Regions from separate parts of the Homo sapiens genome. Here region 1 is linked to region 2. Evidence: fine-mapped QTL for protein levels in blood plasma. Region 2 holds a variant in brackets. A gene starts in the other region. All regions are shown on their forward strands.

Region 1 (4,509 bases), not on the chromosome of region 2:
TCTGCCCTGGATGCTCTGCTCATTAATTTGTGCTAATTAAGTGCCCTTTAAAATGCAAACACTACCGGGAGGGTTATTCCCTGGCCCCCCGACCCCTTGCTCCTTCCAAGCCTGAGGATCCTGCTTGCAGAAGGGCGCGCACTGTCAGGCCTTCTCGCTCTCTGGGAGTCTGCAGGAGCTGTGTCTCCATGCTCCCTGCCTGAGCACTGCCCCTTCAGCGATGCCTCCTCCCCATGCAGATCCTTCCTTCCTAAAGTAGCCCTGTACTTCTCATTTAGGCAGAGTCTTCTGGTCTCTGAGTGCTTGCTCCCCTCACCCCACAATCTGGATGCCCTTCCCCCAGTCTCCATAAGTCCTAGTCTTTTTTTTTTTTTTTTTTTTAAGATGGAGTCTCACTCTGTTGCCCAGCCTGGAGTGCAGTGGCGCGATCTCAGCTCACTGCAAGCTCCGCCTCCTGGGTTCACGCCATTCTCCTGCCTCAGCCTCCCGAGTAGCTGGGACTACAGGGGCCCGCCACCAAGCCCGGCTAATTTTTTTGTATTTTTAGTAGAGAGGGGTTTCACCATGTTTGCCAGGATAGTCTCGATCTCCTGGCCCCGTGATCCGCCCACCTCGGCCTCCCAAAGTGCTGGCATTACAGGCGTGAGCCACCGCTCCCAGCCAAGTCCTAATCGTGATCTAGAGATCAAGGCCCAACTGAATGCTGCCTCCTCCAGGAAGCCTTCCTTGCTTGCTTGCATTGTCTACCTTGGAAGCCCTATACTCTCTCTTGAGCTCTCTGTCCTGATGGGAGCTCTGTCTACATCACCCTGGAGCCAGAATCAAGTCTTATCTTAGCCCAGGAGCTCCGAGAAGGCAAGGGCTGCATCTGGGGGGCCTGATCTCAGGGAATGTGTGGATGGACACAAGTGTGGCTGTGGGGGCTGATGGGAAATGGGGGATGTGGACAGCTGAGCCCTTCAGGGTGGGCGCCCTGTGGGGGCTGGAAGCAACAGCCAGGGGTGCCGGGGGTGTCAGGAGCATTGTTTGGGGCCTGGGCCTGTGATTCGCTGGTAGCTGGTGGGGATGGTGAAGCTTAGTGGGTACCACCAGCCAGAGACCTGGTGGGAGTGCCACCCTCGGGCTGGGAGTGAGGACGTGTCCAGGAGTCCAGCCTCTGGTCACAGCTGTTAGTGAACCGACTGCAAAACTCATTGCCAAAGAGTTTTGGCAATGACCTTGGTTCCTCACCCCGCTCAGGGGCAGTCACAGCCTTCCACCTCCTGTGCACATGGCTTGCTCAGAGGGCACCATCCTTGTGCTGGGAGACTGGGGGCATGGGGTGGGGGAGGCCGGGCCACTGAGGGGCCACTGGTGCCCTCCCACCCAGGAGAACAAGGAAGCCTGGAGTACTGGCTAAGCTGCAGCCTGGGATGACCTGACCCAGCCCTGGGAGGTGACTTGAGGACAGGGAAGTGTGGTGGCTGCCAGACTGGCTAGGCTAGCCCAGGAATGTGAGAGGTTTTCCCTGACAGAGAGTGTCCCGGCCCGCAGGGAGGGGCCTGGCAGGTGGGGCCCCCTGGCTGGCACCTGCTGTCCCTGACCCAGGACTGGGAGAGGGCACGGTGGCGCATCACCGGTTCCTCTGTCAGCAGGAGACAGGGCCCTCTGCCACCTACACCCCCTGCCCCCAGCTCTCTACTGAGCCTGCAGCCAGCCTGCTGGGGCTTCCGGGCACAGGCAGCAGCCCTCGGCTCGGCCACCCTCCCACCCCGAGTATGATGGTCCAGGCACTTGGAGCCTGAGTTCACATCCTGCACGTAGGAGGCCCCTGTCCTCACCTAGAGAATGGGGGGAGAGGCCGAGGTGGCAGGAAGCAGGGAGCCTGGCCAGAGCTGGCACACCAGTGCCCGCGGAGAGGCATGGGAGGAGGTGCTGCCCAGTTATGCCGGTGGGGTCCTCTGGGGCCTGTGCGCACACCTCCCACCCTGCCTCCCCACTTTGGACTCCCCACTTGGCACATCTGGAGCCTTCCCACCTGCTCAGGGGCAGGAGGGATGATGGCCTGTCCCACAGCCCCAGCCTGTCCCAGGGAGTAGGGGGCTGAGCCGGAGCCCCAGGCAGTGCAGCGGAGCCTGGTGGGGGACTGCACCACCAGGACCCTGCACCTTCACGACTCACCAAAACACAGCAGCAGCAGGAGCGGCACCGCCGCCGGCCGCCTCATGTCCTCAGGCCTGGCTGGGGCGCAGGGCCGTGGTCGGCGGTGGCAGAAGCGTTGGAGCACGAGCGAGGTGCAGGCTCCATGAAGTGGAGTTTTATGCTGGAGATGAGCACAGGCCCGGCTATGCGGCCCAACCCGTCGGCCCGGCCTGCCCAGCTCCTCTCCTCAGGAAGGAAGCGCCCAGAGCCGACTCCTCCGTGACCTAGCCCTGAACCCCGAGACCCCAGGGCAGACCCCTCACCCCAGCGCAGCACGGGGTGCCGTTGGCCTCGGTTCCTGGACCCTGAGCTGACCCAGACCCCCCAGCAGACCCCGAGCTGACCGCGGTGCACGCGAAGTCCGTCCAGCTTCATTCATTATTATTATTATTATTTTTTTTAATTTTTTGAGACAGAGTCTCGCTCTGTCGCCCAGGCTGGAGCGCAATCTCGGCTCACTGCAAGCTCCGTCTCCCAGGTTCAAGCCATTCTCCTGCCTCAGCCTCCTGAGTAGCTGGGATTACAGGCAGGTGCCACCACGCCCGGCTAATTTTTTGTATTTTTAGTAGAGACGGGGTTTAACCGTGTTGGCCAGGCTAGTCTCGATCTCCTGACCTCGTGATCCGCCCTCCTCGGCCTCCCAAAGCGCTGGGATTACAGGGGTGAGCCACCGCGCCCGGCCTCATTCAGTATTTTATTGAGCGCCGATGGAACACAGTGGGGCTGGGCCGCGCTGGTGGGAAAGTCAAGGCCAGGGGTGTTTGCGGGGCCGAGGGCAGGGGAGGCGATGGGACATGGGGCGGGGTCCGGAGTTGGCCGCAGCGACCCTCCTCCCGGGACAGCAGGCCCCAGAAGTTCCTCAGGCGCGCGCCAGCGCGGCCCAGGCGGCCGACCCGGGCCCCGGCTGCCATCCCTTGGAAGGGGCGGGGGCTTCCTGGCACCAGGCGGGGCGGAAGCGGCTCCGGGAAGGCCGGGCCGGGGTTACCGTTTCGGTGTCCCCGCCTGGCTCTGGGCGCGGCGCCGCGGCGGAAGAGGCTCGGGGAGGAAGTTATTTGGGGCACGGCGCTGACGTCAGAGACAGAGTGGGGCCGGGCCGTGGGGTCGGGGGCGCCGGACCTGTTTCCCCGCCGGCGCCGGGGGTCGGTACTCGCGGGCGGGGCGGGGCCGGGCGGCTCCGGGCGGGGCTGGGGGTGCGGCCGTTCCCGCCTCAGCCTTGTCCGCGCGCGTCGTGGTGCTGCCCTCTGGTGGGCGCGGGGCGCGGCGCGGGCGGCCAGGGGTGCAGAAGGGGCGCTCCCAGCCTCATGGTCCGGGCTCCGGCTCCCCGCATCGCCCTCCCTAGCCCCGCCCTCCCGCGTCTCCGCCTCCGCCTCCACCGCCTCCTCCCACCCTTCCCTCCCCGTCCAGTCCCTGGAGTTCCCGGGTCGGGGGTGGGAGGCGGGCTGGGCAGCCCCTGGGGGTCTGGAGGGAAGGAGGGAGGGCGAGGAGTGGGAAGAGGGGACTCCAAACGTATTCATTCATGTATTGATTTATTCATTCAGTCAGTCAGTCATTTCTGAGCAGATTTGAGCCCAATACTGTCCCCGGTTTGGGGAATACAAAGGTGACCCAAACAGACCTCACCTCAGTGTGAGAGAGAGAACATCATTTAGCAGAGAAATCTCTAATTATAAACCGCGACGGGCTGGGTGCAGTGGCTCACACCGGGAATCCCAGCACTTTGGGAGGCCAAGGCAGGCAGATCACCTGAGGTCAGGAGTTCGAGACCAGCATGGCCAACATGGTGAAACCCCGTCTCTACTAAAATACAAAATTAGCCGGGCTTGGTGGCGGGCACCTGTGATCCTAGCTACTCAGGAGGCTGAGGCAGGAGAATCACTTGAACTCGGGAGGCGGAGATGGCAATGACACGAGATTGCAACACTGCACTCCAGCCTGGGAGACAGTGAGACCCTGTCTCAAAAAAAAAAAAAAAAAAAGGAGAATAATAATTATCAACCACGGAAAGTGTTTCAAAGTGTCTGGGTGACCACATTTCTCCAGCACCCTATGGTCAGGTCACTGATGGGATCTCAGAGGCAGTCTTAGAGCCTCGCAGGTAACTATTTCCTCTTGGCACCTTTCTGTGTGTTCCTTGGTGTCTGCTCCCCAACCCTCCTTTTAAGCCCATTCCTCTAAGGGTGTCTCTGCCTTAAAATCAAGAAAGTGACAAAAGTCAAGATGCAGATCAGGGCCAGGTGCAGTGGCTCACGCCTGTAATCCCAGCACTTTGGGAGGCCGAGGCAGGCGGATCACGAGGTCAGGAGATCAAGACCGTCCTGGCTAACACGG
Region 2 (4,000 bases):
GTTCTTTTTTATTCCTTTGATTGTTTTGGTGGTGGTTATGATAAAATGCACAAGCACAAGGTTCTGTTGACCTGTTGACCGTCTTAACCCTTTTTATGTGTATAGTTCAGTGGCATTAAGTACATTTAGAATGTGCTACCATCCCGCCATCCAGCTCCAGAAATCTTTTCGTCTCGTCAAACTGAAACATCCTCCTGCTAGTCAATGGCTCATCTCCTTTTCCCCTCAGTCCTTGGCAGCCGCCATTCTGCTTTCTGTGTCTATGAGTTTGACTGCTTTTGAGTACCTCCTATAAGTGGAATGATACAGTATTTGTCCTTTTGTAACTGGCTTATTTCACTTTGCATAGTGTCTTCAAGGTTGATCCATGTTGCAGTGTATGTCAGAATTTCTTTTTTTCTTTTCTTTTCTTTTCTTTTTTTTTTTTTCTGAGACAGAGTTTCGCTCTTGCTGCCCAGGCTGGAGTGTAATGGCGCGATCTCAGCTCACCACAACCTCTGCCTCCTGGGTTCAAGCGATTCTCCTGCCTCAGCTTCCCGAGTAGCTGGGATTACACGCATGCACCACCACACCCGGCTAATTTTGTATTTTCAGTAGATACAGGGTGTCTCCATGTTGGTCAGGCTGGTCTCGAACTCCCAACCTCAGGTGATCTGCGTGCCTCGACCTCCCAATGTGCTGGGATTAAAGGTGTGAGCCATTCACCCGGCCGTCTTTGGATTTTATACAGCAAAACTCCATAATATTTCCTTTACATGAATTTCCTTTCTTTTTCAGGCTGAATAATATTCCATTGTACGCATAGATCACATTTTGTTCATTCATCCATTGATGGATACTTGGGTTGCTTCCCGATTAGCTATTGTGAATAATGCTGCTATGAACATGGGTGTACAAATATCGCTTTGATATTCTGGTTTCAGTTCTTTGGGGTATATACCCCGAAGCACAGTTGTGGGATCCTATCTTGTCTCTTGTTTTCTCTTTGCTTCCATGTTTTTTCTCATTGTTTCGTGGGAATACTGATATTATATATTCAAGTATTTGTTGATTACATGCACTGTACCTGACTTGTTTAAAGCCTGATGTCTTGAGTACTGTGCACCCCTGTGCCTGGCTGAGTAGTGGAGGAACTTTGAAAGGGTCTGTTCTGGAGAGGGGGTGCTGCTCTGGAGAGGCGGTGCTGCTTTGGAGATGGATTAATCAGGAACTTGGGTGCTGATTCTAGGAGGTACTGCATCTAGAAAGATGGGAGGTGGGGAGTGCAACTTCCCCAATTTTGCCTTTAACTTCAGATCCTTGGGGTGGGTGCATTGCTTCTCCTGGGATGGAGGGGTGCCGGGGAGCCCCTGACCAGGACCTGGAGCAGGTCCACACAGGCACTGGATTTGTCCTTTACTTTGGGCCCAGGCTGCACTCTTGATTCCACCTCCTCACACTGGCTTCAGCTTTCTCACCCTCAGAATGGAATTCAAAGCCTCTGCCCCTCCCAGGCAGACACCAAGGTATGATTTTCAAGTGGTTGGTGTCTTGTGACTGGCAGCTGATAAACGGGTGATACAGTGTTTCTATACAGGAGTCTGCAGTGCCAGGCTGCAGGGGCGGACGGGAGGGGGTCGTGGTGGGTAGCCTGTGGAGCCTGAGGGTGGGAACAGAGAGACTTCTTTTGCTGTAGGTGGAAGCCTGTCTGGCTCCTTTCCCTCAAAGGTCAGACAGCTTGAGAGATGTTTCCATCCTCCCATGCATGACC[C/T]TGAGGCAGTTAGCTGGTCAGTTACTCACTGTGCTCTCTGCCAACTCTAATGAGCCAGGAAGCCTCCCCGTGCCCAGGCGTGCTGTGATCACAGTGTTCAATGATGGGGTGAGGCTGCAGCGTCCAGCCAGGGACTGTGCCGCAGGGGCCAGAAGATATCTGACCTACTGTCACTGCCTCTTCCACTCTGTTCCACCTGCACTGGAGCGATGCTATCCGATGAACAGATCCATTTATTAATTCAACACGTTTGTATTGAGAGCCTGCTGGGTGCCGGGCACTATTGTCAACATGGGTAATACAGCAGCAAGCAAAACAAGAGAAACATCTTTGCAAGCAGGGGAGGGGGCCTGCAGTGTTGGGTGTGTGGAGTTGTTGCTGGGAAGTAGAGAAGCTGAGTAAGAGCTGGACAAAGAGGCCAGGCACAGTGGCTCACCCCTGTAATCCCAGCACTTTGGGAGGCCGAGTTTGGCAGATCACTTGAGGTCAGGAGTTCGAGACCAGCCTGGACAACATGGGGAAACCCCGTTCCTACTAAAAATACAAAAATTAGCTGGGTATGGTGGTGCATGCCTGAAATCCCAGCTACTTGGGAGGCTGAGGCACGAGAATTGCTTGAACCCGGGAGGTGGAGGTTACAGTGAGCCAAGATCACACACCATTGTACCCCAGCCTGAATGACAAAGCAAGACTTTGTCTCCAAAAAAAAAAAAAAAAAAAAAAAATAGAGAAAAGGAAAGCTGGATGAAGAGAGATAGCCAAGCCCATGTCTACGGAAAAGCATTCTTGACTGAGTGAACGAAAGTACAAAGCCTCAGAGGAGGGAGCATGCCTAGGTAGCCCCCTAGACCTGGTGAGGCTGGTGCGTGGGGCAGCCTCCATGGAGAGGAGTTGGGCAAGGAGGGAGGAGGTGCTGGCCAGTAGAGCACGTGTGTCTCTGTGCGTCAGAGCAAGGACCCGGGCTCTCCCCGTAAGTGAGAAGAGTCCATGGAGGTTTTGGGGCTGAGGAGGAGTTTTACAGATGACCGGTCTGTTCTTGGCACTTGCAATTAGCGGACCGTCTGTATCCGAGTGTTGATCGGGTGGATTCTAACCCTGTGGGAGAACTCCCCAGCCCGTAGCCTGCGCTCACTGTACCTGGCAGTTGTATTAATGACGTCAAATGCACAGTCCAGCTTGAGTCCCCTCTAGAACGTGGGCAGCGGACACTAAGCCGAGAGGAATCGCTGTGGGTTGGCAGACACTGTGGAGACTGACTCCTGGACAGGCTGTGGAATGTGTGGAAGCAGGTACAGCCCAGGCCCGCGCTGAAGTTCGGCAGGGAAGCCAGAGGAGTCCGCAGCCCGGGAGACCTGGCCTACAGCGGAGAGAGTCAGTCCATGCCAGTGGTGGGATGTGGCTGCAAAAAATGGTCGGATTCATGGAAGTCTGGTGTCCATCTGGCAGGCGTTAGTGGTCCCACGAATACAGCTGTGTGCCTTGAACACATACTGCAGAGCTTCCAGAGAGCACCAGGGCTGTGGGGGCTAGAGACTGTGTCTCGTGCGGAAGCGTGGCTGAGGAGGGGCTTGACAGGCTCTTCGTCACTGTGCGGAGCCTTCGAAGGACTTGGATGTGCTTGAGACCCCTTCCCCTAATTGCTGTGTAGGGCAGGGGTGGACATCCCGGGGATCGTGGAGTCTAGGGAGCCAGTCTGCACGGGATGGTTTTAGAAGCCGTAGGATGTGGGGGTTCTGGCTGAAGTAGCCAGAATTCCAGTGCCAGCTCCGCTCCTCACGAGCTGTACAACCTGGGCCGGTTACTGACCCCTTTCCCACCTTAGTTCCCTGGCTCTACAATGGAGGTAATTATCGTGTTGAACTCACAGGGTCGAGATCATATTTAATACTTGCACAGCCCTTAGAAGCATCTAGCACAGTGGTCCTCAGCATTTGGAAATGTCTGGAAACATTCTGTCACACCTGGGGAGTGGGATTTCCTTCTGGTGTCTAGTGGGTAGAGGCCAGAGATGCTGCTAAGCGTCCCACAATACACAGGACAGACCCCGCAACAATGAACTGTCTGGCCCCCAAAGTTAGTGGGGCAGAGATTGCAGGATCCTGATTCCTTTTCTTCCTTTTTTTTTTTTTTTTTTTTGCCCCTGGCTATGAGTAAGAGATCCTGGTTTCGCACAAAGTGAACGTGCAGTACATTGTTTCAGTTGTTAATTCGCCATGCAATACATCGTTAGTCACGTATTATTGTTTGTCA

Direction of the effects. Alleles are on the strand shown, and positions count from the first base shown. The strength of an association depends on the size of the effect and on how common the allele is.
For the plasma level of the protein whose gene starts at base 2,270 in region 1, allele T in region 2 goes with a higher level than allele C (weak association).

Evidence for each region. A credible set is the group of variants that fine-mapping cannot tell apart. PIP is the posterior inclusion probability: the model's chance that the variant is causal. Protein levels are from antibody-based Olink assays in UK Biobank. Linkage for the fine-mapping came from a reference panel and not from the study's own genotypes, which makes the PIPs less certain.
Region 1: it holds the start of PRSS27, and the variant in region 2 is the best candidate, but not a certain one, in a credible set for the plasma level of the PRSS27 protein (UK Biobank, PIP 0.81).

The regions. Positions count from the first base shown.
Region 1 is chr16:2,717,955-2,722,463 of GRCh38, forward strand. PRSS27 (serine protease 27) reads right to left here and starts at 2,270. Exons shown (of 6, transcript NM_031948.5): 1 at 2,161-2,270. The coding sequence starts at 2,206. RefSeq lists an enhancer at 2,540-3,107 and silencers at 2,841-3,600, 3,731-3,800, 4,484-4,509.
Region 2 is chr11:126,372,004-126,376,003 of GRCh38, forward strand. The region is part of intron 1 of ST3GAL4 (ST3 beta-galactoside alpha-2,3-sialyltransferase 4); the gene reads left to right. Among named protein-coding and RNA genes, the nearest start is that of ST3GAL4, 18 kb to the left of the region's middle. The variant C/T (reference allele first, on the strand shown) is at 1,751.